Regions from separate parts of the Homo sapiens genome. Here region 2 is linked to region 1. Evidence: fine-mapped expression QTL. A gene starts in region 1. The other region holds a variant in brackets. All regions are shown on one strand. Distances are from middle to middle. Region 1 holds the start of HSPG2 (heparan sulfate proteoglycan 2). Region 2 overlaps HSPG2 (heparan sulfate proteoglycan 2).

Region 1 (8,470 bases):
GGGAGTGTGTTTCACATGCTCAAGAAACAAAGCCTTGGTCAGGCGAGGTGGCCCATGCCTATAATCCTAGCACTTCAGAAGGCTGAGGTGGGAGGATAGCTTGAGTTAAAGAGTTTGGGACCAGCCTGGGCAATACAACAAGATCCCATCTCTATTTGTTTTAAATTTTTATATTCATTAGAAAAGAAAAGGCTGGGTGCAGTGGCTCACGCCTATAATCCTAGCACTTTGGGAGGCCGAAGGGGGTGGATCATTTGAGCCCAGGAGTTCGAGACCTGCCTGGGGGAACATGGCAAAACCCTGTCTCTATAAAAAATACAAAAATTAGCCAGGTGTAGAGGAGGGTGTCTGTAGTCCCAGCTACTCAGGGGGCTGAGGTGGGAGGATCACCTGAGCGTGGGAGGTTGAGGCAGCGGTGAGCTGTGATTGTGCCACTGCACTCCAGCCTGGGTGACAGTGTGAGACCCTGTCTCAAAAAAAAAAAAAAGAAAAGAAAAAGAAACAAAGACTGGTATAGCTGGAGGAGTTTGAGAGGAGCAGGTGGCAGGAGGCCGGGTGTTGCAGGGCCTCGTAGGCTATATTAAGTCAGGGGCTGGGACCTAATTCTGAGCACCGCAGGGAGGTGGTGAGCAGGAAACACAGGTGAATGGGAGGATTCACTGAGAAACTCAGAGCAGACAGTGGGTACTGGGTAAGTCTGAAGTACCCGTATTACTGTGTCATCATCCAGCCTGGCACCCCAAGAGCTCCTTCCCCTCCACTTTGCTCACCCGTCTTCCGGGCCCTGAACCCAGTCACCTCCTGCCACCTTCTTTCCACCGTCTCCCGGGCAGGGCTTCAGACCCACAGATCCTAACTTGTCTGCGCTCAGCCTGAGAGCAGGCCCGGGCCAAGCCAGGCAGGGGCCACAACTCCCCAGACAGGGGGAAATGGGCCTAAGGGATGGGGGGGTGGTCCATCTCTGCCCCTTCCAGCTTCTACCCTGCAGACAGACCTGCAGCCTGCCCTCCTTCCCTCCGGGAATGTCCAGGGCACACTCAAAACCCCATCCTGTGCCGGCTGCAGGTACGGAACAAGTAGGCTAGTGTCAGGTGACAGAGCAGCTGGCTGCGTGGAGGAGGGCTGAGGGACCGCCAGGAAGGGGAGGCTCCTGCAGTTCAGCTGGCAGCCTCCCCAGTGAGGAAATCCAGCTGAGGCAGGAAACAGGTATCTCAGCGACTTCCCTCCTAGGCCCTGGAAAACACCTTAATCACCACCGAGGCTCCCTCAAGACGCCTGTCCCCTGCAGGGCCGCCCTAAAGGGGTCAGCAGGCCAAGGCCTGCCGAGTCACCCAGGCCCAGCCCCCTCCTCCAGCAAGCCTCCTCACCTCCCAACAGCTGAAATTACACCCACACTTAATCACAGATCAGCTTCCTGTGGTCCTGTCCCCCGTCCCGGGGAAGCCTGGAGCTCCCTAAGGCCCATCTCACCCTGCTGCTGTGCCCAACCCTTCCCCATAAGCCACTGGCTCCGGACCAAACTGAAGGGCAGATGAGAGCAAGGGTAGCAGGCAAAGAGGGTCCAAGGTGTGCTGGGAGCCTGGGCTAGGAATTGATCTCATTTTTGACTTGCAACAAACTCCTCAACCCCATTGTACAGATTTGGAAACTAAGGCTCAGAGAGAGGAACTCGCCCCAGATCACACAGCCAGAAACCGCAGCCCAGAGACTCATACTTGGGTCTGTAAGACTTCAGAGACAGGCCAGGCATGATGGCTTATGCCTGTCATCCCAACACTTTAGGAGACCGAGGCGAGAGGATCGCTTGAGGCCAGGAGTTTGAGACCAGCCTGGGCAACAAAGTGTGATGCCCTCTTTTTTTTTTTTTGAGACAGAGTCTTGCTCTGTCGCCCAGGCTGGAGTGCAGTGGCGCGATCTCGGCTCACTGCAAGCTCCGCCTCCCGGGTTAACGCCATTCTCCTGCCTCAGCCTCCGGAGTAGCTGGGACTACAGGTACGTGCCACCATGCCTGGCTAACTTTTTGCATTTTTAGTAGAGACAGGGTTTCACTATGCTGGCCAGGCTGATCTTGAACTCCTGACCTCATGATCCGCTCGCCTCGGCCTCCCAAAGTCCTGGGATTACTGGCGTGTGCCACCGCGCCTGGCCCCGAAAAACTTTTTATTGTTTGTTTGTTTTGAGGCGGAGTCTCACTCTGTCACCCAGGCTGGAGTGCAATGGTGTGGTCTCAGCTCACTGCAACCTCCGCCTCCTGGGTTCAAGCGATTCTCCTGCCTCAGCCTCCCGAGTAGTTGGGATTACAAGCATGCGCCACCACACCCGTCTAATTTTTGTATTTTCAGTACAGATGGGGTTTCACTATGTTGGCCAGGCTGGTCTCAAACTCCTGACCTCGTGATCCGCCCACCGTGGCCTCCCAAAGTGCTGGGATTACAGGCATGAGCCACCGCGCCTGGCCTGAAAAACTTTTTAAAAAGAATTTTATAAAGAGACTTCAGGGGCCAAGCTCTTTCCAGCCCACCACCAGCAGCCTGGGGTGGGACAGCGACCCTCCATGTGTTGCTGAGAAGGCTCTCTAATCCCACAGGATTGGAGCTGCCTGTTTATTTGTCTAAATTACCGCCCACCAGCCTGTGAGTGCTGGGAAGGCACAGACAGGGCCTGTCCTTGCTGGTCCAACCCACCCCAGCCCCTAGCACCACACGAGGTTCACTGGTTCACTGGCACACAGTAGGTGCATGGCAAATATCTGCCCAAAGAATGAACCTCTGTACTCCCAGTGACTGCCATGGAATGTCGCTCAGTGATGATCTGTTGAATGAACAAGTGAATGAGATGATCTGCCACGGTCCAGGAATGTCTGTGGAAATTCCTCATGCACACAGCAAACAACTCCACCCACCGCCATCCTACCGCACCCGGGCATGGAGGAGCCCCTCATCGGGGGCAGAGCTGGGGGAAGGTCAGGAAAGACTGTTGGGCCTCGGAAAACATCCCACGTGCTAGGTTGGTGCGTTGGGAAAAGTAAAAGTCAGTGCCAGGAGTGCAAGTTCAGGTCAAGACTAGGGAGCTACTGGATGGCCCTGCTGAATATTTTGGGGTGAGAGGCTGAAACAGGAGGACGACAGAGGAGGCTGCCCAGAGTGGGGATGGGGGAGGAGAAGTGCTGGGTGGGTGGGGCAAGAGCAGTGAGGAGCCAGGTCTGGGTGGGGGCTTGACGAGTGACTCAGGAGGGTAGAGGTGCGATGAAGCCAGGAAGGTGAGGCCAGGCAGGCAGTTCCTGGGTAAACACCAGCCTGGTTAGAAAAGTCCCTCTCTTGGCTCAGAGAACAGGGAGGCAGGTATGGGGACTGCCTAGGAGCACCTCGGAGAGAGTGGGGGTGGCTCTGTGGCTCCCCACGGTAGGCTCGGCTCCCCAGATGTGCCCCCACCCACATCTGCCACTAGCTCCCTGCCCACCGACCCCACCCAGTCCTCCTCAAGTTCACTCAGGTCCTCAGGGCCTCTGCTGGCCAAGTGCCTTCTAAGCCTCGGGATTCCTGACCGTAGAATTCCCTTTTCCTCCACCTAAGCTCAGAGTAGGGGACTAGACTGCAAGGGCAGGCCTCTCCCTGCCTCTTGGAGACCTGGGAAGAGGAAAGCTGGGGAACTCGGGTCCCCCAAGGGTGCACTGCATCCCCGCACCACGCACTTTGCAGCTCATTCCACGCAGTCCAGCAACGCCCTGCAGCTATGCATTTTGAGGCCGTGCATTTTGAGTTCCCTTGACCCACGTGGGGCTGGCCTCAGAGAGGTTAACTAGCGTGCCCCAGGTCACACAGTTACTCAGTGAAAGGCAGGGATTGATTCAACTCTTCGGCTGTATGACTCCAAGGCCCGTGGGTGTTCCACACAAGCTTCAGTTCTGTCCCAAAAGTTTTGCTTGTGCCTACCTGGGTCCAAGCTCCCCAAGGTGATAGACGGTGTGGTAAAGTTTCAGCGAGACTCATAGGGTCCCCATCACCACTGAGTGGCCGTTCTGCCAAGCTGGCGCAGAAGGGTTCCCTCGTCCTGCCAAGTTCCCACCCTGCTCAAAGTTTCCCCTCCTGGTCCCCAGGAATGGTAGGCCGGACCATGCCCAGCGAGACTCCAGCACTCGGCAACGTGGCCGAGAGACCCACGGGCTCCCACACGGGCCAGCCCCGCCCCCAGCCCCACGAAGGGTCCTGACTGGTGGCCCCCCTGGATTAGCCCCATGCCGCAGGGTGGCGCCGGCCCGGGGTCCCCGGCGGGCGCCGCCGTCCCGGGCCAGAGTCCCCGCCGCGCAGCCTTGGGCGCCCCAGCCAAGTTGGCGGGAGGCGGCGAGCGGGACCGGGGCGCCCCTAGCCCCTCCGCCCCCGCCCCCCGCCCCTCTGCCCCGCACACTCACCGCCAGCAGCCGCCCGTGCAGCAGCAGCGCCAGCAGCAGCGCGCCCGCCGCCCGCCACCCCATGGCCCGGCCCGCGCCGCTCTCTCGCTCGCTCGCTCCGCGCCGCCCGCTCCGCGCCGCCCGCAGCCGCCCGCTCGCCGGCCAGCTCGGGACAGCGCGGCCCTCTCCCCACCGCCCCCTTTCCTCCCCGCCCGCCCCGCCCCCGCAGCGCCGGCCCCGCCCCCGAACCGCCCCTCCCCGGAGCGCCAGGCCCCGCCCACGGACCGCCCCCGGGCCGCGGGCTCTGCTCGCCCCAGCCGGCCGCGCAGCCTACTAGGCCTTTGTCTGGGCCCCCAGCCCCCTCCGCGCGGGCCGCGGCCCGGCCCGGCTCCCCGCCAAACCCGGCCTGGAGTATGGGATGGGACGGGGCGGGGGACCGGGGGCCCGGGCCCGGGCATGGGATGGGGCCGCCGGGCCAGGCGCTCTCGCCTCCCCGATCCCCGGCTCCCCCGCTTCCCCGCGCGCGCCGCCGACTTCCACGCCCCTGCACGCCCCGCACGGCCGACTCCACTCGCGCAGCTTTTGAAGATCCCGGGATCTCCTTCCCACGCTCACACGCACGCAGCTGCCGCTCCGCGCCACACGTGCACGCCAACTTCCACACCCAAGAACACCTTCACACCATAACTTTACTGCACGAACACACTTGTGCGCTACCCGGGAACACTTTCACACTCTGGACCCAACTCTGAAGTACCAACAATCCTCACCGGCTCACATGCACACTTAACTCGCTTCCAAACTCTCACCTCCACCAGGGACACAGGAGACAGCCCTCACACCACACTCAGCCCCTCACTCACGCATACATCCCAACAAGTCACGGAGCGGGAGGACGCCTTTTCACATAGATTCCTCGCAGGCACGCACATTTCACACACAGGCCCACATCATTGCCTACATGCTTACCAGCTTGTTTTTTTTTTTTTTTTTTTTTTTGAGAAGGAGTCTCGCTCTGTCCCCAGGCTGGAGTGCGGTGGTGGGATCTTGGCTCACTGCAACCTCCGCCTCCGGGTTCAAGCAATTCTCCGGCCTCAGCCTCCTGAATAGCTGGGATTACAGGCGTGCCACCACGCCTGGCTAATTTTTGTATTTTTAATAGAGATGGGGTTTTTACCATGTTGGCCAGGCTGGTCTCGAACTCCTGACCTTGTGATCTGCCCGCCTTGCCCTCCCAAAGTGATGGGATTACAGGCATTGAGCCACCGCACCCAGCCTCAGCCTGTATCTTTTACCTGTTCTCACCCACTAATCACAGTGCCTCATAGTGGGCACTGGGTACTGAACTGAGCTGCCCACCCCACCTGCACCATTTTCCATGTAAATCACTCACACACCAACTTTGAGTCACATAAATCACAGCCCCAGAGCCAGAACCACACCAACTCACACACTCAGGCCCAGACAGACAGACCCTGCCAAAGCCCCATCACAGATGCTCGGGTGGGTGGTAAAATCACAGCCCCATGATCTGTCTCTGACCCAACCGCAGGCAGCAAACAGCACCAAGCCCCCAGACCTATTCACTGCCTACTCTTCAGCTCCCCTCTTCTGCCTGAAATTTCCAGGGCAGCCCGAGGCTGATGGGTGGAGAGGAAAACTATGTGTGTGTAGCTTTGAGGAAAACCTTTTGAGTAATGATAGAGGAGGAGAATAAAACTGAAGTTTCCATTGTTTCCTGTGAGAGTTGCTAGGTTCCAGAAACTCATGGCTGGGTTTGCAGCCAGGAGTGAGGTGAGCTGTGGACAGAAGGAAATGCCCAGCTCACTGGGCGGCACCAGGCCTGGCTCCGGAAGCTATGTTCCCTGTGATAGGGGTCCGCAGGCTCCCAAGCACATTGGGGCCTCTCATCCAGGCATCTGGGGGATTGAAAAAACACTGGCATCCTGACCCCCATCCCAGATAGATCCCCTATCTCCAAAAGATATCTCCAAAATATGCCCTGTGGGGCATATTTCTGTGGGACCAGCTCAGAGTTGTAAAGAACAGAAATTGCATCCACGGTAGTCAGGCCAACTGCCTGGCCCCAACCCAGGCTCCAGGCACAGCACTGAATAAGGTCTATCTCTGATCCGCACAGGGAGATAGGGGTGGACAGAGGAGGGACGCCCAATCTTGGCCCTCAGTAAACTCTTAATCTGATAGAGGTGTGGGGAAGAATAGTCCCTGTCCGGGTATTGTTCTCAGTCTGATAGAGAATCCTGCCTCCACCACCTAGCCGTGCAATCTTGAGCACATGATTCAACTTCCATGTCTCAGTCTCTGCATGTAGAAAATGAGAATAACGTTAAGACGTCTCTCTTAGTGTTGTTATGAGAATTAAGATAAATTAATATATTTCTTTTAAAAAACACAGCCATTTCAGACACTTGGTAAGCATGAAATAAGTGGTAGCCATTTCTCTTATTACTATTTCTGGTGTGCTCCCAATCTAAAGAGAGAGACATGACTTGGCCCTTGGGGAGCTGAGGTCTGATAGAGGAGCAGCCTCCACAGCCACCCCAGGGACCTCCCATTTGAGGGGAGAGTACACCAGGTTTGCACTTGGAAACTCCCTGTCCGATGAGAAAGGCTTCAAAACTCCACTGACTTCAGAGCTGGCAGGTGGCCAGCCCTAGTGGCAGGATTTTTCCAAGGCCTTGCCTGTCCATGGATTTGTCAGCATCCGTGACAAATCGCATTTCATGAGCTGCCTCAGTGTCTGTTCCCTACCTCGGGCCCTTTAAGTACCAGAGCTTTGGCTTCTTGGATGATTTGCTCATGAGCAAAGGGGGAAAAAAAGGGAAACAAGCAACCCTTTGTAGATGTTTGGTCAAGACTAACCCAGAGCTATAAGTCTTCCTTCCTCAAAGGGGTTGAGGAAAGAGATGGTAAGGCCGACTAGGGACTGGAAGGAGCTGGGCTGACACGCAGAAAGCAGGAATATATGGCATGTTGAGAAAGTCTTCCAGGGCGGCTCCAGCAGCGGAGGATTGGTCATCCACCTATTTATTCTGTGTCCTCTCCTTCCCACTAAGGGATTTGCCTGGGTCTGTTTTAGTTTGCAGTCCTTGATATCTTTAGCAAATGCTCTCAAGTTGCTTTGTCTAGAGCCTGGCTATCTCCTCATATGGCTAAGAAGAGGAGCAGGCACAAGGCCTTCTGGGCTTGGCAAAACCTTGGAGGCGCCCATAATCTCACTGTATGTACACAGAGTTCAGGGTGCTGGTCACACTCGAGGAGAGAAACAACTCAAGTCTCATACAAGGTTCCCTGGGCACGGAGAGACTACAACAGCTTGGATAGGCAGAAATAGTCAAACAGCTTGACTTCTGAGAATAGGTGTTGGGGGTTCTGGAACCAGCAGCTGGAGTTTGTGGCTTACCTGTCCACTCCTCCAAATTCAGTAGGACTCATCTTCTGGCTTCCACTCCCATTCCAAATCTTTTCTCTGCCTGAGAGCTTATCATTCATCTTAATCACATTCCTTTGTCCATTCATTCATTCATTCAGGGCTGCAGTGGACAGTTGCGCAGGTTGTTCACTGAACAAAGGTGTGCAGCCAAGTGGGTAAATAGGAACTGTAATGGGCCCTGTTGTGGGGCTACATCTGCCCAGAATGGGTACTTTTTTTTTTCTTTTTGAGACAGAATCTTGCTCTGTTGCCCAGGTTGGAGTGCAGTGGCACGATCTCAACTCACTGCAACCTCTGCCTCCTGGGTTCAAGCGATTCTCCTGCCTCAGCCTCCCAAGTAGCTGGGATTACAGGCACATGCCACCACACCTGGCTAATTTTTTGTATTTTTAGTAGAGACAGGGTTTCATCATGTTGGCCAGGCTGGTCTCGAACTCCTGACCTCAAGTGATCCACCCGTCTCGGCCTCCCAAAGTGCTGGGATTACAGGCGTGAGCCACTGCACCCGGCCCAGAATGGGTACTTTTTGCTGATATGAGTGAAGGCACTGTAAGGCTAGCTGTGGCCCTATATTCATTCAATAGTGAAACTAAACACTGCCCACGAGAGTTTCTATGTCCATGTGGGAA
Region 2 (16,536 bases), 27 kb before region 1:
ATACAGTAAGTGCTTAATAAGCATTAGGATTAGTATCATGCAGAGGGTGCATGGTAGGGGTGAGGGGTAGGTGTGGTTGAGGGGTGATGCATGCGGAGTGTGAGGTGTGGGCTCAGGCCTGGGGTCGCCTCCAGATCTGGGATGAAGGGAGGAGCCTGGCTGAGTGGGCAGGACCCTAGCAAGGGGTGGGCAATAGAATTGGGTCCTATGGCTCAAAGTTGTCTGCCTGCTCAGAGGCTGACTCTGGGACCAACCCAGGGCTTTGGGCTTCTCCAGACACATTGTTCACATGCCTTCAGCAGCCAGTCCACCCCACCCTCCTTGTAGCCCAAGCCTGGGACTGAGCCCCCGACTGCCCCCGCAGCTAGGCAGGAAGGTCTGAGCACTGCACAGTCCCCAGGGCGGCTGCAGCTGCCCAGGGCCAGGCTCCAGGCATGTGGGGATGGAGTGAGCTCACCCCATCAAAATCCAGAGACAGTGCAGGGGCGGGGGGACAAAAGAGCTCCTGCCTGCCCACCTGCCTCCCTGCCACGGTCACCACAGGCTCTGCCTCAGTGCCCCTTCCCCTGCCCACTGCCAAGGAACCAGCAGACAATGTGACCCATGGTCCCCAAATCTCTGGGGAGGGACATGAACCCAGACAAGGTCCCCATCCCCCTCTGCCAGGATGCAGGCTCCTAGGTAACCCCAAAACAAGTGCTTCCCCTACTCGGCTGCAACCCAGGCCCCAGACACAGGATCAAGGTGCCCTGCCCCACCCCCAGGCCACCCAGTGCCCTGTCCACAGGCGACAGACAGCACACAGGAAGGAATCTGTCGGGGCAGCACTTTGTTGTACAAACTGCCAGGGGCTCAGAGCCCGACACAAAGGCCAAAAGGCCTTTAATCCCCTGGCAGTCTGAGAGGGGCGCCGGGCCGGAAGGGAGGTGGCCACAGCCTCCTCTGGCATGCTTGTGCTGCCCGTGCCACTCGGGAGGCCTGCCAGCTTCTCACACAGGGGCCCCCAAGGTGGCAGGAACTTCACCAGCCAGTCAGCCAGGAGAAATACGGACGCCCCCAAACAAGGAGAGGGTCCAACACGCATCCAGGGCTTCTTTGTGCCAGGGGCTGAGCTAAGGTCTTCACAAGACTTACGTCACTCAGATCCACCACAACCTCACGAGGGAGACACTGGAGGCACACTCATTTGATAGATAAGGAAACCAGGCTCAGAGAGGTACAGTTACCTGCTCCAGGTCACACAGCAAAGGCAATGGGAACGGAGTCTGAAACCAGGACTCCCCTCTGCTGGGTTCATGCTTCTGTATTTGGCTAGCTCAGAGGCACAGCTGCCAGCAGGGCCCTGCTTCTGACCTCTGACCCCTTGCCCTCTGTAAGCTCATATCAAGGCCTGCAACCTGGAAAAGCTGCATTCCATCCAGGGCTTCTCGGGAGCGCTGGGGCAGGTCAGGGCCTTCAGCGGAGGCCCAGAGGGCAGGAAGCTGGGGTCTGGAGTTTCTAGTCCCAGCTTAGCCCCGCACTCACCACGTTGCCTTGGACAAGCCCCTGCCTCCTTTACCTTTTAGCTAACTTTAGTGAGTCTCTACTGTATGCACTGGGCATCCACACCCACCATCTCAGTCCATGTGAACAACACGTGGAAGGCAGTGACTTTGATCTGTTTTGAGCATTGCTGCAACTCCACAACAGAAAACACACAGTAGGTACTAATAAATCTGCGGACTCACGGACAAACCAAATGAATGAACCTGCCCAACAGCCCTGAGGTGGAAATTAACCCACCTGACAGAAGAAAGCTAACTTCAGAAGGAGACTTGCCCAAGATTACACAGCTTGAAAGTGCCAGAATTACCTCTAGTCCTCAGTTCCCATTAATACGACAGAGGCCATAACACTTCATCCTAAGGGAAAGAGGGGACTAGGTCACACGGGCCCTGAAATCCGTTCCAAGACACCCCTGTCCCTGCAGAACAATCCCTCCAAGAATTAGTTCTCTCCGCTATGAAATGGGAGCAAAAGGCCGGGCATGGTGGCTCACGCCTGTAGTCCCCGCACTTTGGGAGGCAGAGGCAGGCGGATCACCTGAGGTCAGGAGTTCGAGACTAGCCTGGCCAACATGGTGAAACCCCATCTCTACTAAAAATACAAAAATTATCTGGGCGTGGTGGCGTGCGCCTGTAATCCCAGCTACCCTGGAGGCTGAGGCAGGAGAATCGTTTAACCCAGGAGGCAGAGGTTGCAGTGAGCCAAGATTGCGCCACTGCACTCCAGCCTGGTCAACAAGAGCAAAACTCCATCTCAAAAAATAAATAAATAAAATAAAATAAAAATAAATAAAATGGAAGCAAAAAAAGGTCCCCGCTTTGCCTCCTTCCTGGGGCTACTGGGAGAGGCATGTGGAATGAGGCGGTGATCTCTTTGAGAGGCACAGTCCCAATCTCTGAATCTGCCTGGCCCTTCTCCAGGCAGGCCCCATGTGGTCTCTGCCTTGGAGGCTCCTATGACATAGCTAGGGGTGGGCACCCAACCCGGTCTGGCACTGACCAGGCAGGGGACTGGCGAGAACACTTGACCACCAGCCGGTGGGGCAGAGCAGGCTGTGCTGTCAGACACCTCCAAGTCCGGGCCACCCTGGCCATATTCTAGCTAGGGGGCTTCAGCTTCCTCATCCTTAAAAAAAGTAGAATCGATCAGATCTGTCCCATTTGGTTCAATTCAAGTCACTTCAACCTCGACTTACGGGGTACCTACTATGTGCTGGGCCCGGGGGACAAAATGTGAAATGGACACAGAACTCCATGTTCCTGGGGGACACAGGCCACGGAACCACGTGCTGGCAACACCGTGCGAAGAGAGTGCTGAAGGGGAAGGAAGGGGGCCGGCAGAGCCCAGGGGAGGGTCCCCTCACTTAGGGAGGTGGCTGGGAGGCTGGGGAAGATTTCCAGAAGAAATGCTAACTCAGCTGGGCCTGAGAGATGACTTCACCTAAGCAAAGCAGAGAAGGGGAAGAGTGCGGACCAGGTGGAGGGAAGGGCACACGCTGAGGCCAGGGCTGGAGAGGGCACGGCACGTTCGCGGGGTGGGAGGAAGCCTGGTGCAGCGGGACACGCGTGTGAGTGGCAGAGGAGTCAAAGGGCGGCACGAGTGGGCTTTTCCATTTAAAAGGGCCGCCCCTCAGTTGTGCTGCTGACCCGGTGCTAGTCACAGAGGCCAAGTCTCCCCTGTACCCCCAGAGTCCCTGCACTCTCCTCCGTCCCCCACAGACACCCCAAGATTAGGTCTCCCCTGGTGGCTGAATGAGCTGCCTGCCAGCTTACAGGGAACCAGGAAGCCACCGGGAAATGCCCTTGCCTCACCCATGTGCCAGGTGTGGCCAAGGCGGTGGGGGTGGCCTAAGCGGGAACAGCTTCTGGACTGGGCTGCCCAGCAAGAAGGTCCCTGGGGGTCGAACACTATCTGCCAGGCACCACGGCTGCCGGCAACACCTGCAGCGTTCACGTGCCAGCCTCCTGCATGCAGCCTGGCTTGGTTCTCAGGTTCTCCGGCTCCCAGCTGCCCTGCTGCCCTGGCAGGTCTGTGGGGCTTCAAGGGCACACCAACCTGGTTGGGCCTGCCCATACCCTCCTGGGTCACTGCCCACAGATTTCATGAATGATGCCCCTTGCACAGTGCCAGGACTATGGAAGGATGGGCGGAATGTTCCACAAAGTTATGTTGCCATGAGACACCACTAACAACCACGGCCGCTTCCTGAACCTGTCGGGTTAGGCCTTCCCACGACTCCTGACTCACCAACGGGTGAGAGGAAAAGCCCTTATCATGGCCAACCAGGTTCTATGTAATCTGTCTACACACACACCCACCACCCACCCACACACACACACACACACACACACACACACAATCATGGTCAACCAGGTTCTATGTAATCTGTCTACACACACACCCACCCACACACACCCACACACACACACACACACGCCACGCTCCAACCTCTTTTGCTACTGTGCTCCCCCAACTCCCTGCCTTCTAAAATAGCCACATGCATCCTCTCAATAGTCGTCAAACACACCAAGCCCCCTGCCTGGGACACTGTCCCCACATATTCCATCACTCGCTCCACTTCTTCCAGTTTTTGCTCCAATGTCACCTTTCAGCCGCGCATGGTCGGTGCCTCACGCCTATAATCCCAGCACATTGGGAGGCCGAGGCGGGTGGATCACCTGAGGTCAGGAGTTCGAGAGCAGCCTGGCCAACATGGTGAAACCCCATCTCTACTAAAAATACAAAACTTAGCCTGGTGTGGTGGCAGGCGCCTGTAATCCCAGCTACTTGGGAGGCTGAGGCAGGAGAATCACTTGAACCCAGGAGGCAGAGGTTGCAGTGAGCCAAGACTGTGCCATTGCACTCCAGCCTGGGCAATAAGAGTGAAAATCCATCTAAAAAAATAAATTGTTGAATTAATTAATGAAGGCTGAGACAGGAGGATTACTTGAGGCCAGGCGTTCAAGACCAGCCTGGACAACATAGTGAGACTCTGTCTCTACAAAAAAATTAAAAATCAGCCCGTTGTGGTGGTGCACACCTGTAGTCCCAGCTACTTAGGAGGCTGAGGCAGGAGGACTGCTTGAGCCAGGAGCTCGAGGCTGCAGTGAGCTATGATTGCACCACTGTACTCCAGTCCGGATAAAAGAGTGAGACCCTGTCTCTAAAAACAATTAATTAGTTAATTAATTAATGGGGTTTATAAGTGAGGAGCCTGAGGCTCAGAGAGCTAACTTGCCCATAGTCACAGGGTTGGAAGAACCAAGACTTGAACCTAAGACCCCTGGCTCCACACCTGGAAGGAACTCCATACCACCTGGTCCCGCCGATGATGCCTGGGACTTTCCTGCTGGGAAGCCCATCTCTGGGGTGACAAGAGGCTGCCCATAGTCACTGAAGAGCATCCCGGAGGGGTGGGTGGGGGCCTCGGAGGCGAGCAGGGGCCAGAACTCTGGCTCCAGGGCCTTGCGCAACACAGCCAGACAGCCAGGCCTCAGTGACTGTACTCAGCGCTTGTTCCCGTGGGCATCGGCAACAGGAAAAAACAGGCTGGAACAGCCCGGCAGCTGTGGCCAAGGAGGTCGGCTCCCCCTGCCCCCAGGCTGGGCTTTCCTCATCTGCTGTAAGGAAGAAGAGGAAGGGGCAGGCAGGGCCAGGCCCATGGCTGAGATAGGCCTGTGGAGAGCAGAGCTGGAAATCAGAGCAAGGGGTCCTCGTCCTGAAGCGCCCCATGTCTGCTTTCTTCATGTCCTTTCCTGGACACAGAAACTCTCGGATGGGAATAGGCGCGGGGGAGACAAACACATCTGGGAAAGGCTGGTTACACAAAGCTGAGCTGCCTCCCTAAGTCCTAAATGACTGAAGCAACATGATGGGACTGGGGGGTGGGGGGGGGTCACGTGCAACTATTTGGTGTTTCCCAAGTTGCTTAACTTGGAACCTTTTATGTATGCAAGGCTCACTAGACTAGGGTTCCACAGAACACACTTTGGGAACACCACCCCAACCATCCCGCCTTTCCCTCAAGTTAGCCTTAAGTAAGATTTTAGACGTAAGATATGCTCCCCAGTACCCAGGGGCTCTGTAAAGGAGGCTCTTGAAGATAAGAAAAGCCGCAAGGCCCCATGGAAGGAAAAGCGGGCTGGCGGCCGGCTAGCTGGTAGTAGGAGGGGTGTGTTCTCTCTCCTCAGGGTGATTGACACCTGTCACCTGAGAAATCCAGACACAGCCTGAGCCTTCCCTCCCTGGCCATCAGTCTGCTCTCTCAGGGGGTGACTCCTGTCGGAGGTGAAAGAGAAGGTGGCCCAGCACCCAGTCATTCCTGGTCCGCTTGGACCCTCCAGAAAGTCTGGAGGTACCTGTGCCCCAGAGAGAAAGAGAGCTTCGTTCAGCTGCTGAGTGCAGAGACCGGGGCAGGGGCTCACTCCCAGGGCCGGCGACCATGCAGGTAAGGGGGTGCTGGTGCTCTTCAGGGCAGCGACTGAGAACAGGGCTCCCAACCAGCTCTGCTCGCTGGTCCCTTCCCTTCTCTGGGCCTCAGACTCCCCTCTGTCCGATGATGAAGCAGCCCTAGGTCATGGCTCTCCAGTCCATCCTCAGCAGCCTCAGGGCCACTCTGGACAGGAGTGAGGTGGAAGCGGGGCACCGTTAGAGTTTGGGCCCCTTCCCAAACACTCACTTTCATCAAAACACATCCAATTTTTTTTTAACAGGGTTCTGCTCTGTCGCCCAGGCTGGAGGGCAGTGGGCCTCCTCAGAGCCTCCTAGGCTCAAGATATCCTCCTGCCTCAGCCTTCCAAGTAGCTGGGAGTATAGGTGTACATCACTACATCTGGCTAATTTATTTTTTGTAGAGATGAGGTCTCGCTATGTTGCCCAGGCTGGTCTCGAACTCCTGGTTTCAAGCGATCCTCCTGCCTCGGCCTCCTAAAGTGCTGGGATTACAGGCATGAGCCACTGTGCCCGGCTACAAATCCACCTCTTTCCTTTCTATATTCTCACCTACATAAATATCTGGTTCAGCCCTTGGTTAGCTGTGAGGCCATGAGCAAGTCATTTCTCCTCTCTGTGCCTCCGTTTCCTCATGTGTAAAATGGGCACGATCATTCATAGTAATAATATCTATCTCATACGGCTGTTGTGAGGGTTAAATACAGATGTAAAATGCTACAGATAACACAGCACATGGTGAATGTTCTATAAGTGTTTGCTGCCTTTCGGCCGGAACCGCCATCTTCCAGTAATTCGCCAAAATGACGAACACAAAGGGAAAGAGGAGAGGCACCCAATAGATGTTCTCCAGGCCTTTTAGAAAA[C/T]ATGGAGTTGTTCCTTTGGCCACGTATATGCGAATCTATAAGAAAGGTGATATTGTAGACATCAAGGGAATGGGTACTGTTCAAAAAGGAACGCCCCACAAGTGTTACCATGGCAAAACTGGAAGAGTCTACAATGTTATCCAGTATGCTGCTAGCATTGTTGTAAACAAACAAGTTAAGGGCAAGATTCTTGCCAAGAGAATTAATGTGCGTATTGAGCACATTAAGCACTCTGAGAGCCGAGATAGCTTCCTGAAACGCGTGAAGGAGAATGATCAGAAAAAGAGAGAAGCCAAAGAGAAAGGTACCTGGGTTCAACTAAAGCGCCAGCCTGCTCCACCCAGCAAAGCACACTTTGTGAGAACCAATGGGAAGGAGCCTGAGCTGCTGGAACCTATTCTCTATGAATTCACGGCATAATAGGTATTTAAAAAAAAAAAAAGACCTCTGGGCTGTTAAAAAAAAAAAAGTGTTTGCTGTGATTATCTTTGTTATTTTGATTAAAATAAGGGTCTCACTGCTTAATGAGTTTGAAAGCCATCAACTTAAACGACCCCAAAGCTTCCTCTGGTTTTGATATTTTAGAGCACTGACACTCTAAAACATTAGGATTCTAAAATTCTAGGCTGTGTCCCACCTGCAAAAGGAACAGGGCTAAAGGAGGGGATTACAAAGTCAGGACAGGCTGGGTGCGGTGGCTCACGCCTATAATTCCAGCACTTTGGGACTGGTGGTCAGGAGTTCGAGACCAGCCTGACCAACATGGTGAAACCCCGTCTCTACTAAAAAATACAAAAATTAGCCGGGCATGGTGGCACATGCCTGTAATCCCAGCTACTTGGGAGGCTGAGGCAGGAGAATCGCTTGAACCCGGGAGGTGGAGGTTGCAGTGGGCCAAGATGGCGCCATTGCACTCCAGCCTGGGCGACAGAGTGAGACTCCATCTCAAAAAACAAAAACAGAAACAATGTCAGGACAGAGCCAGAAGGAGTCAGGCTGCAGAGACCCGCTGAGCAAAGGGTCATCATCACCATCATCCTCATCATTCATTTATACCTCCCCTCTTGCCCTGTTCCAAAAAGGCTGCAGACAGCTTACAAAGATGCACACTTAACAGCCAAGAGAATATTAACTAAAGAAATATAAGAAAAACTCAGGCAGGGCAGGCAGATGGAGCCTGGAGTGAGGCAAGCAGACAGAGAGCACATGCTGAATCCCAGAGATCTAGGAAAGGGACAACTCATGTGGCCCTGAGCTTGCCAGCAGCCAATGGGAAGAAGGAAACCTGACCAGTCCCTAGATTCCATGTCTCACAATGTAAAAACAAACCAGTTGCTTAGAAAAAGCACAACTATCCCTGATACTGAGAGCAGGGAATGTCCCAAGGGACAGGCTTGTCTGGCACCCTTCTCTGCCTCATCAGTGGGGCTGGCATCCCCTCAGAGTCTGCTGACCATGACCCTTTGAAGCTGAAGCCAGGGGCAGAGGCTACAGTGATCAAAGATTCAGGGAGCTGGAATGGCAGTCCAGTCAGTACCCCACCAACCTCACCCCAGCAGCCTTGGTCTAGGCAGGATTACCCATCACTCCCCAAACCCGAACACAGCCAGTGCCCAAAATAGCTAGAGCAGGAGAGGGTGCCAAGAGGCCCTGGCAAGGGCCTGGGCTAGGCCCACCTACAGGAGGGCCCAGTGGGCCAATGCACACATACCTCTGGTGCACAAAGAGGCACCTTCAGTCAGGCACAGAGCCGTCCCTGGGAGTCCCCCACCCACCAGGCTCCCCCCTCAGCTGCACGTTGCTCACGCAGAACTTGAGCTGCTGCTCCACCCTTCCCACAAAGCAGGCCTTCCTGCCTGAGCCAGACTAGAAAAGCCTTCCACAGAAATGCCACCGCACCATATAGGGAAGTGCCTGAAGACCTCCCCGCCCCACCTCCAGAATCTGCCAGAATCAGCCCCCTCAGGATCCTCCATGGCGATGTTGGTTCCTCCCTGGGTCCCCCAGCTGCAGACCAACACAATGGGGGCTATTCTGGGCTGCACGGGGTATTTAAAGCTCTGACTGGGCCTCCTCCCTGGGGAACAAAAGGCCTTGCCCTCCGTAAGACCTTCCTGAAATTGTTCCTGCCCAGACTGTGGTGGCTGCATCCTGTACTGTTCCCCACCTCCCCTGCCAGGCCCTGAGGCCCTGTAAGATTCAGCACAAAATGCCTCCTCCAGGAAGCCCACAGGGCTGCCTCCTGTGCTCAGCAGCACTGCCTGAGACCCTCAGAAAAGCTGGGTCCTGGCTCAACTCTGCCATCGATCTTCTCTGGGTCCCAGTTTTCTCATCTGCAAAATATGGATGTGAATCCCAGTGTGTGAAAGCACTCCAGAGGCTTCCATGGTTAGGATGAGTAGTGTCTCTCCAGCCACTTTGTGAAGCAGAATATAAGCAGGAACGGGAATTGGTCTGTTTTGTCGCTGCCCTTTTTCTAGCACCTGGCACACAGTAGGTGCCAAATAAATATTTACTGACTGATACAAATATTTAAAGAATGTGTCTGTAGCCTCCATAGAACCACCCAGAATGCCAGGCACACAGGTGGTTAATACCCTCGATGGTAACGTTGCCAGCTCTCAGCTTGAGCACAAAGAACACATCAAGCCTTATGCTAAGTACCTGATGTTAATTATCTGATTTAATTTGCTCAACAGTCCCAAGAGGTCGGTACCATTATCTTATTTCACAAGCAAGAAAACGGGAGTTCCAGTCCAGGTGGTTAAGCAGCTCGCCTGAGGTCGCAAATGGCCAAGCTGGGAGTCAAGCCCAGGAGCCCTGAAGCCCCTGGCATCCTGCGCCAAATGCACATTGAAGAAAGGCAGTCGGAGAGCACTGGGTGGGGAGCCAGGAGCCTGAAGTCAGCCACTAAGCTGTGTGACTTCAAGCAAGTTGCTTGGCCTCTCTGAATCAGTTTTCTCTTCCATAAAAACAAGGGCATGAATTCCTCTTCTTCAGGTCGTTGGTAGGATCAAAGGAACCAAAGATGTGACTCTGTCTCCCACACTAGCCCCAGCCCCTCCCCAAGGGCAGCAGCTGTGAAGGATGGTGGGAAGATGTACTGGGAGGAGGGGGCTACCCAGAGCTGGCCCCAGAACAAAGCTCCACAGCTGCTGACAACAGCTGGGGAGAGCTCTGGGCCTGGCCCAAGCAGGGGGAGAATGGGCAGGCTGGGAAGTCACCTCTGGCCCTCCTCTGTCACCCTTCCCTGCTGACAGCTGCTGAGGCCTCAGGGCCAAGGGCCCCAGAGCAGGCAGGGAGTGGGGGTGTGGAGGGGGTGGGCGGGCTGGCTGGGGTCATCTTAGTCCTCATGCTGTCAACTGCTCAAGCCTCAGGGTGCCTGGCCTCGCTGTCCCATAGCACAGCCCTTTACCCAGTTCCCTGGGAAGCCTGGGTGGAGAGGCCGGAGCAAAGGTCTGGGGCTGAACATGCCTTAACTGGAGCCTGGCCTGCTCCAGGGCCCCCGTGGGGAGGTGCAGGGCCGGGAGGGAGGGAGTCCTGAAGAGGCTTGCAATTTCCCTGGTGCACAGCCCCACTGCAGGCCCTTCAGGAAACGTCCCTGGAGGCTGTGAGCTTGGCCCACCCCAGCCCATCTCAGCCCCCTCAGCTGCCGGCCAGCCCAGCTCCACTCCCAGTTCGGTGCCAAGCCTTTCCAGCCCGCTCCAGCCCACGCAGCTCTCTCTCCTCTGAACTCTCACATACCCATAATTACAACTGACCATATTTTCCAAAGCAGAAATCAAGAAACCACTAAATAAAGGATTTCTGGGCTACTTCTGAGTGTCAGAGGCAGCCTGGGAGGTGAAGTTTGGATGCAGAGGTATTCAAATCTCTGAGACACGTTGATAGTTTTTTGCGATGACTACTATATCTATCATATTTTATTAATAAGTCAAAGCCATCCTAGGAAATGTGTGTTGGGCACATGCCACCCCATACCACTGTTAACTGTTGACTGGACACTTTAGCCTGGCAGTTTCCTAGCTGTGTGGCCCTGGGCAAATCACTTGACCTCTCTGAGCCTCTGTGTCTTCATCTGTAAAATGGGAATAAAAATGACCCCCTCACAAGGCTGCCGTCAGAATTCAACAGGACAACCTAAGTGCTAGTATCAGGCACTTACGAGGTGTAAGTACCACTTCTTCCTTCTCTCCCAGTCCTATCCACCCCAGAGCTCACACACCAAGTGAGTGAGCTCTCCAAAGACCCCCGGGGAGAATGAGACACAAGAGAAACCTGCCTGCAAAAGGTTCCAATGCATTCCTGGATCCTGTACTGTCCAAGCTGGGAGGGATCACCTAGCCAACACCCTCACTTATCAGATGGGGAAACCAAATCCCAAAGAAGGGAAGTGAGCATGTTATGGGGAACCAACCAGACTTGGAGGGCCTGGGTTCAATCCCATCTCTGACACTTCCGGCTGCTGGGGAACTTTATCACTTTGAGCCTCATTTTTGTGCCTCCCATACCCCCATAATGTTGGATTAATAATTATTGCTGGGCGCAGTGGCTTGTGTCTGTAACCCCAGCAATTTGGGAGGCCGAGGCAGGCGGATTACTTAAGATCAGGAGTTTGATACCAGCCTGGCCAACACGGTGAAACCTCATCTCCACTAAAAATATAAAAATTAGCACAGCATGGTGGCATGTGCCTATAATCTCAGCTACCTGGGGAGCTGAGGCAGGAGAATCACTTGAACCCGGGAGGCGGAGGTTGCAGTGAGCTGAGATTGCACCACTGCACTCCAGCCTGGGCGAAAGAGTGAGGCTCTAGCTCAAAAAAAAAAAAAAAGCTGGATTATGTATACAGAGTGTTAAGAATGGTGCTTTTGGGCAGCCGTGAGAAGAGAGAGGAGCCTCCCAGCAACTCGATTGGCAGAGGCAGATCCAGGACCCAGCCTCTTGGTTCCTAACAAAGGGTCATTTACCTTTCACGAAGCCACCTCCTCCTCTCCTTGGGGCAAGGATTCTCAAAGGCCAGGATAAGGGGCTACACAGATGAGGCCTCTGGGAGGGTGGCAATGGGCTAGGTCTTTGTGGGGGTGCTAATCAGGGCCAGAGCCCTCAGTCTCAACCTCTGGCACCCAGAGCTGGTCCCTCCAGCCTGTCTTCAAGCCCCAGTCAGACAGGCCCAGCCTAGGAAATGGCAGGAAGGGCTGGCAAGGGAGGGATGCCGTGTCCTTGGCAAAGAGAATGCGACATCCCAGGGACTCGGGTTACCGGAAATGGTAAATCTCCCCGCTGCCTGTCACCTTCGACCAGGAATGTCTGCTGCCCCAGGGAACATCCTGTCCACCTGCCCTCAGACAGCCCACGGACAGCCAGGAACCTGGACCCACTCTCTGCTCCCTGCCCAACCCCCAGGCCTTAGGTTAGCTGCTGGGTCCCCCCAGCCAAAGGGTACCTGTCATTCTGGGGCAGTGAGCCCGGCTGTAACTAACTGACCAATCCCAGGGAAGGAGCCATCCTAGGAAATGTGTGCTGGGCACAGGGAAGGAGGAGAAGGCTAGAAGGGGAACCCCCAAAAGATTGAGAGCTACCCCCAAATCTGATCCATCCAATCCCATCATACGTGGATTCTGAGTCCCCAGTTTGGATGAAGGCTCTGATCTCATAAACCCAACACAAGAGGCAGTACAGTGTGAGTTCTGGGTGGGACTAACCCAGCCGGAGGCATGGCTCTGCCGCTTGCCAGCTGGGTGGCTCTGGGTAAGGCACTGCAGTGCCTTCCGCCCTCAATTCTAATACAAAAGTGACAGCAGCCTGTGACAGGAACCTGTGAAATTTGTGGCGCTAAGCTGTGAGTCATTTAGCCCAGGATCTGGTGTGTAGAGAGGGCCCAGTAAACAGTGGCTATTAGGTATTGGGAAGTATTAGAAAGAGAAGGGGGAAAAAACAGTAATCATTATAGGAGCAGGTACTATGAGCCACACAATGTTCTCTGCCCTTGCTGGTGCTGACCGTCTACTTGGAGACCGATGGACCATAAATTAATACCCCAAATATACATGTCAAATGGTGAGAGTGCTGAAAAGGAAATACAGCAGGGTGAGGGGACGGGGAGTGGCCTGTTGAGGGTTGCTATTTCCCTGGGTATGGAGGGTGATGCTGACAGAGCAAGTCAGGTGCATACTTAGAGGAAGAGCACCCAGGCACCAGGAGCAGCATCTATAAAGACCCCAGAGGCAGGAGGAGCCTCAGAATGTTTTGGAAAACAGCCAGGAGGCCGGTTATCTAACCCCCATGACTGCCCTGAGAGCTAGGTGTAATTGTCTCTATCCCCCGGAGGAGAATCTGGCAGGGCCAGGATCTGACCCTCCATAGCCAGGTGTCCAGGGACGACTGGCTTCACAACTCCCATGGGGAGGAGCAGAAAGGTAGAAAAGCGCAGGTGTCTGAGTCCAAGCTCTGATTCTTCCAGGGATTGGCCATGTGATCTCAGACCAGCTGCAGCTCCTTGCAGGGCCTCAATGTCCTTGTCACTCATGGGCTAGAGATGCCTGTTCCATCCACTTCGCAGATGACTTTCTCCTCCCCAAAAGGAAGGGGAGGAGAAAGGATGGTGCTGGGAGGTGACCTTGAGCTTCTCTGGCATCTCAGGCCAAAGCTCCTCCCCGGGCAGGTGTGAATGCCAGGTGCAGACCCTGCCCACCTGAACTGCCCAGAGCAACCACCTGCCTGACCCCCAAAAGCTCACATCCTGCCTATGCCTGCCTGGGCCTTGTCCCACTCAGCACCCAGAGCCCAGCCACAGCCACGGCCTCTGTCCTGCACTCTGGTTCTGGGTGTCAGACGTCCCTCACCCCCAGGGCCCAGCCCAGGACCGGCTCCTTATGTTCCTGACCAGGCGGAGGGTCCATGATTGGCCTTTGTTACCTTTGTTACCAAGGGTGCCAGCGGGCCAGCCCTCACGGGCACCCGGCCAGATCGTGAGGCCCAGCCAAGTGCAAACAGCACACTTGGCGCCCTGATACGGGCGCGTTAGAGCGGGCAGGGTGCCCCCGTCACAACAAACCATCATCTCTACACCGCTAAGGGGCCCAGGCAGCCGGCACCTCTGCTGGGAGCTGGGGACTAGGGACTGCCAGGGGAGGCCTCCTCCCCTTCTCCCACTGGGAATGGGTAGTGGGAATTTCGGAGCCCGGACATGGAGATTCCAGATGCCAGCAGCTGAAAGGGCAGATATGCAGACAGGCTGCAGGGAGCACGTGGGAAAATAACAGGGGCAGAGGAGCTGGATGAAGGCAAGTCATGGAGTTTTTCACATTATGGGTGTGGTCAGGCAAAGGGAGAGTGAGAGGCTGCCGAGAAGAAAGCAGGAAGAGCCCAGCAGAGAGAGGAGCAGCAAGAAGAACCAATGAGAGCTGGAACGGTTCCAATATGGGACAGGGAACCAGGGATAATGACCACAGCAACTCCTTCCAGCAATACCCAGCACTTAACATACACAGCGCTTCCGACAGAACTTTCTGGTGCAATGGAAATGTTGCGTGCCTGCACTCATCCAATAAGATAGCTACTAAGCGCTTCAAATGAGGCTAGTACCATCAAGAAACTGAATTTTTTGCCGGGCATGGTGGCTCACGCCTATAATCCCAGCACTTTGGGAGGCCGAGGTGGGCGGATCACCTGAGGTCAGGAGTTCGAGACCAGCCTGGCCAACATGGTAAAACCACATCTCTACTAAAAATAAAAAAAATTAGCTGGGCGTGGTGGTGTGTGCCTGTAATCCCAGCTACTCGGGAGGCTGAGGAAGGAGAATTGCTTGAACCTGGGAGGCAGAGGTTGCAGTAAGCCGAGATCACACCACTGCATGCCAGCCTGGGTGACAGAGCAAGACTCCATCTCAAAAAAGAAAAGAAGAAGAAGAAAAAAAAAAAAAGGCCTGGCACGGTGACTCACGCCTGTAATCCCAGCACTTTGGGAGGCTGAGGCGGGCAGATCATGAGGTCAGGAGTTGGAGACCAGTCTGGCCAACATAGTGAAACTCCATCTCTACTAAAAATACAAAAAATTTGGTTGGGTGCGGTGGCTCACGCCTGTAATCCCAGCACTTTGGGAGACCGAGGCGGGTGGATCATGAGGTCAGGAGATCGAGACCATCCTGGCTAACACGGTGAAACCCTGTCTCTATTAGTAATACAAAAACACAATTAGTCAGGCGTGGTGGCGTGCACCTGTAGTGCCAGATACTCGGGAGGAGGAGGCAGGAGAATGGCATGAATCCTGGAGGCAAAGCTCGCGGTGAACCGAGATTGTGTCACTGCACTCCGGCCTGGGCAACAGAGCGAGACTCTGTCTTAAAAAAAATAAAAATAAATAAATAAATAACACAAAAAAAATTGCCAGTGTGGTGGTGTGTGCCTGTAATCCCCGTTACTCCAGAGGCTGAGGCAGGAGAATTGCGTGAACCCAGGAGGCAGAGGTTGCAGTGAGCCGAGATTGCGCCATTGCACTCCAGCCCAGGCGACAGTGCGAGACTCCATCTCAAAAAAAAAAAAAAGAAACTGAATTTTTATTTAAAACTTTATTTAATTTTAAATTTTGCATTAAATAGTCACGTGTGACTAGCAGTTACCATATCAGACAGTGCAGATTATACCATCATTGATCCTTAGGCCAAGGCTGGAGATGGAGCTATCTCCATTTTACAAAGGAGGAAACTGAGGTTTGCCAAGGCTGCACAGCTGTAGGCTGCAGAGGCAAAATCGGAACCAGGCCTGGCTCTGCCACAGGGCTCCCCACCCATGGTTATTGTCAAGGCTGGAAACGGCTAACGGAAATCGAACATGTGTGGTGATAAGGCTGCCTCGTTAATCAAGATATCAAGTCTGTCTGCTTTTGGCCTGAATTCTGTCAGCTACACCAGTTATCACACGCTGACCAGAAGTTCTGACCGCCTGTTTACAAAGGTCTTTGATTTTTTCACACTAAGAAAGGGCAGAATGGCTGGGCGCGGTGGCACATGCCTGTAATCCTAGCTCTTCGGGAGGCTGAGACAGGTGGATTGCTTGAGCCCAAGAAGTTTGGGACCAGACTCAGCAACATGGCGAGACCCCGTCTCTATGAAAAATACAAAAATCAGCCAAGTGTGGTGGTGTGTGCTTATGGTCCCAGCTACTCGGGAGGCTGAGATGGGAGGATCACTTGAGCCCAGGAGGTCGAGGCTGCAGTGGGCCATGATCGTGCCACTGCATTCCAGCCTGGGTGACAGAGCAAGACCCTGTCTCAAAAGTAAATAAATAAATAAATAAATAAATAAATAAATAAATAAATAAATAAAAATAAAAGACAGGGCAGAATGGGGATGGAACAGTCCCAGTTGGTCGAGAAGCCATGTCTTTAAGAACACTGAGAATCTTCAATGGCAAAAAAGCTGGGCTTGGACTTCTCCACCCATCAGCCCCCTGAGGCTCCTAAGAACTGGACGACACCCACTCAGGGTAACACAGGGCACATTTGCCTGCCTCTAGGCCTTTAGTCATGTGGTTCCCTCTTCTTGGAATGCTGTTCCCATGCCCTTCGAGCTAATCTATTCATCCATCCTTCAAGGCCCACTCAATCACCACCTCCACTCTAAAGACTTTTTGGAACCCCTATAAAGACATCCTTCTCCCTACAAATATGTGGACTT

Evidence for each region.
Region 2: its variant is fine-mapped to the expression of HSPG2 in whole blood (TOPMed, PIP above 0.99).

The regions. Positions count from the first base shown.
Region 1 is chr1:21,932,747-21,941,216 of GRCh38, forward strand. HSPG2 (heparan sulfate proteoglycan 2) reads right to left here and starts at 4,564. Exons shown (of 97, transcript NM_005529.7): 1 at 4,409-4,564. The coding sequence starts at 4,471. RefSeq lists an enhancer at 3,014-3,855 and a silencer at 4,603-4,952.
Region 2 is chr1:21,901,301-21,917,836 of GRCh38, forward strand. All of the region lies in intron 1 of HSPG2 (heparan sulfate proteoglycan 2), which reads right to left. It also overlaps the pseudogene RPL21P29. Among named protein-coding and RNA genes, the nearest start is that of HSPG2, 28 kb to the right of the region's middle. RefSeq lists enhancers at 8,117-8,833, 8,548-8,597, 8,658-8,717, 8,768-8,837, 8,834-9,549 and 1 more and a silencer at 14,092-14,247. The variant C/T (reference allele first, on the strand shown) is at 6,861.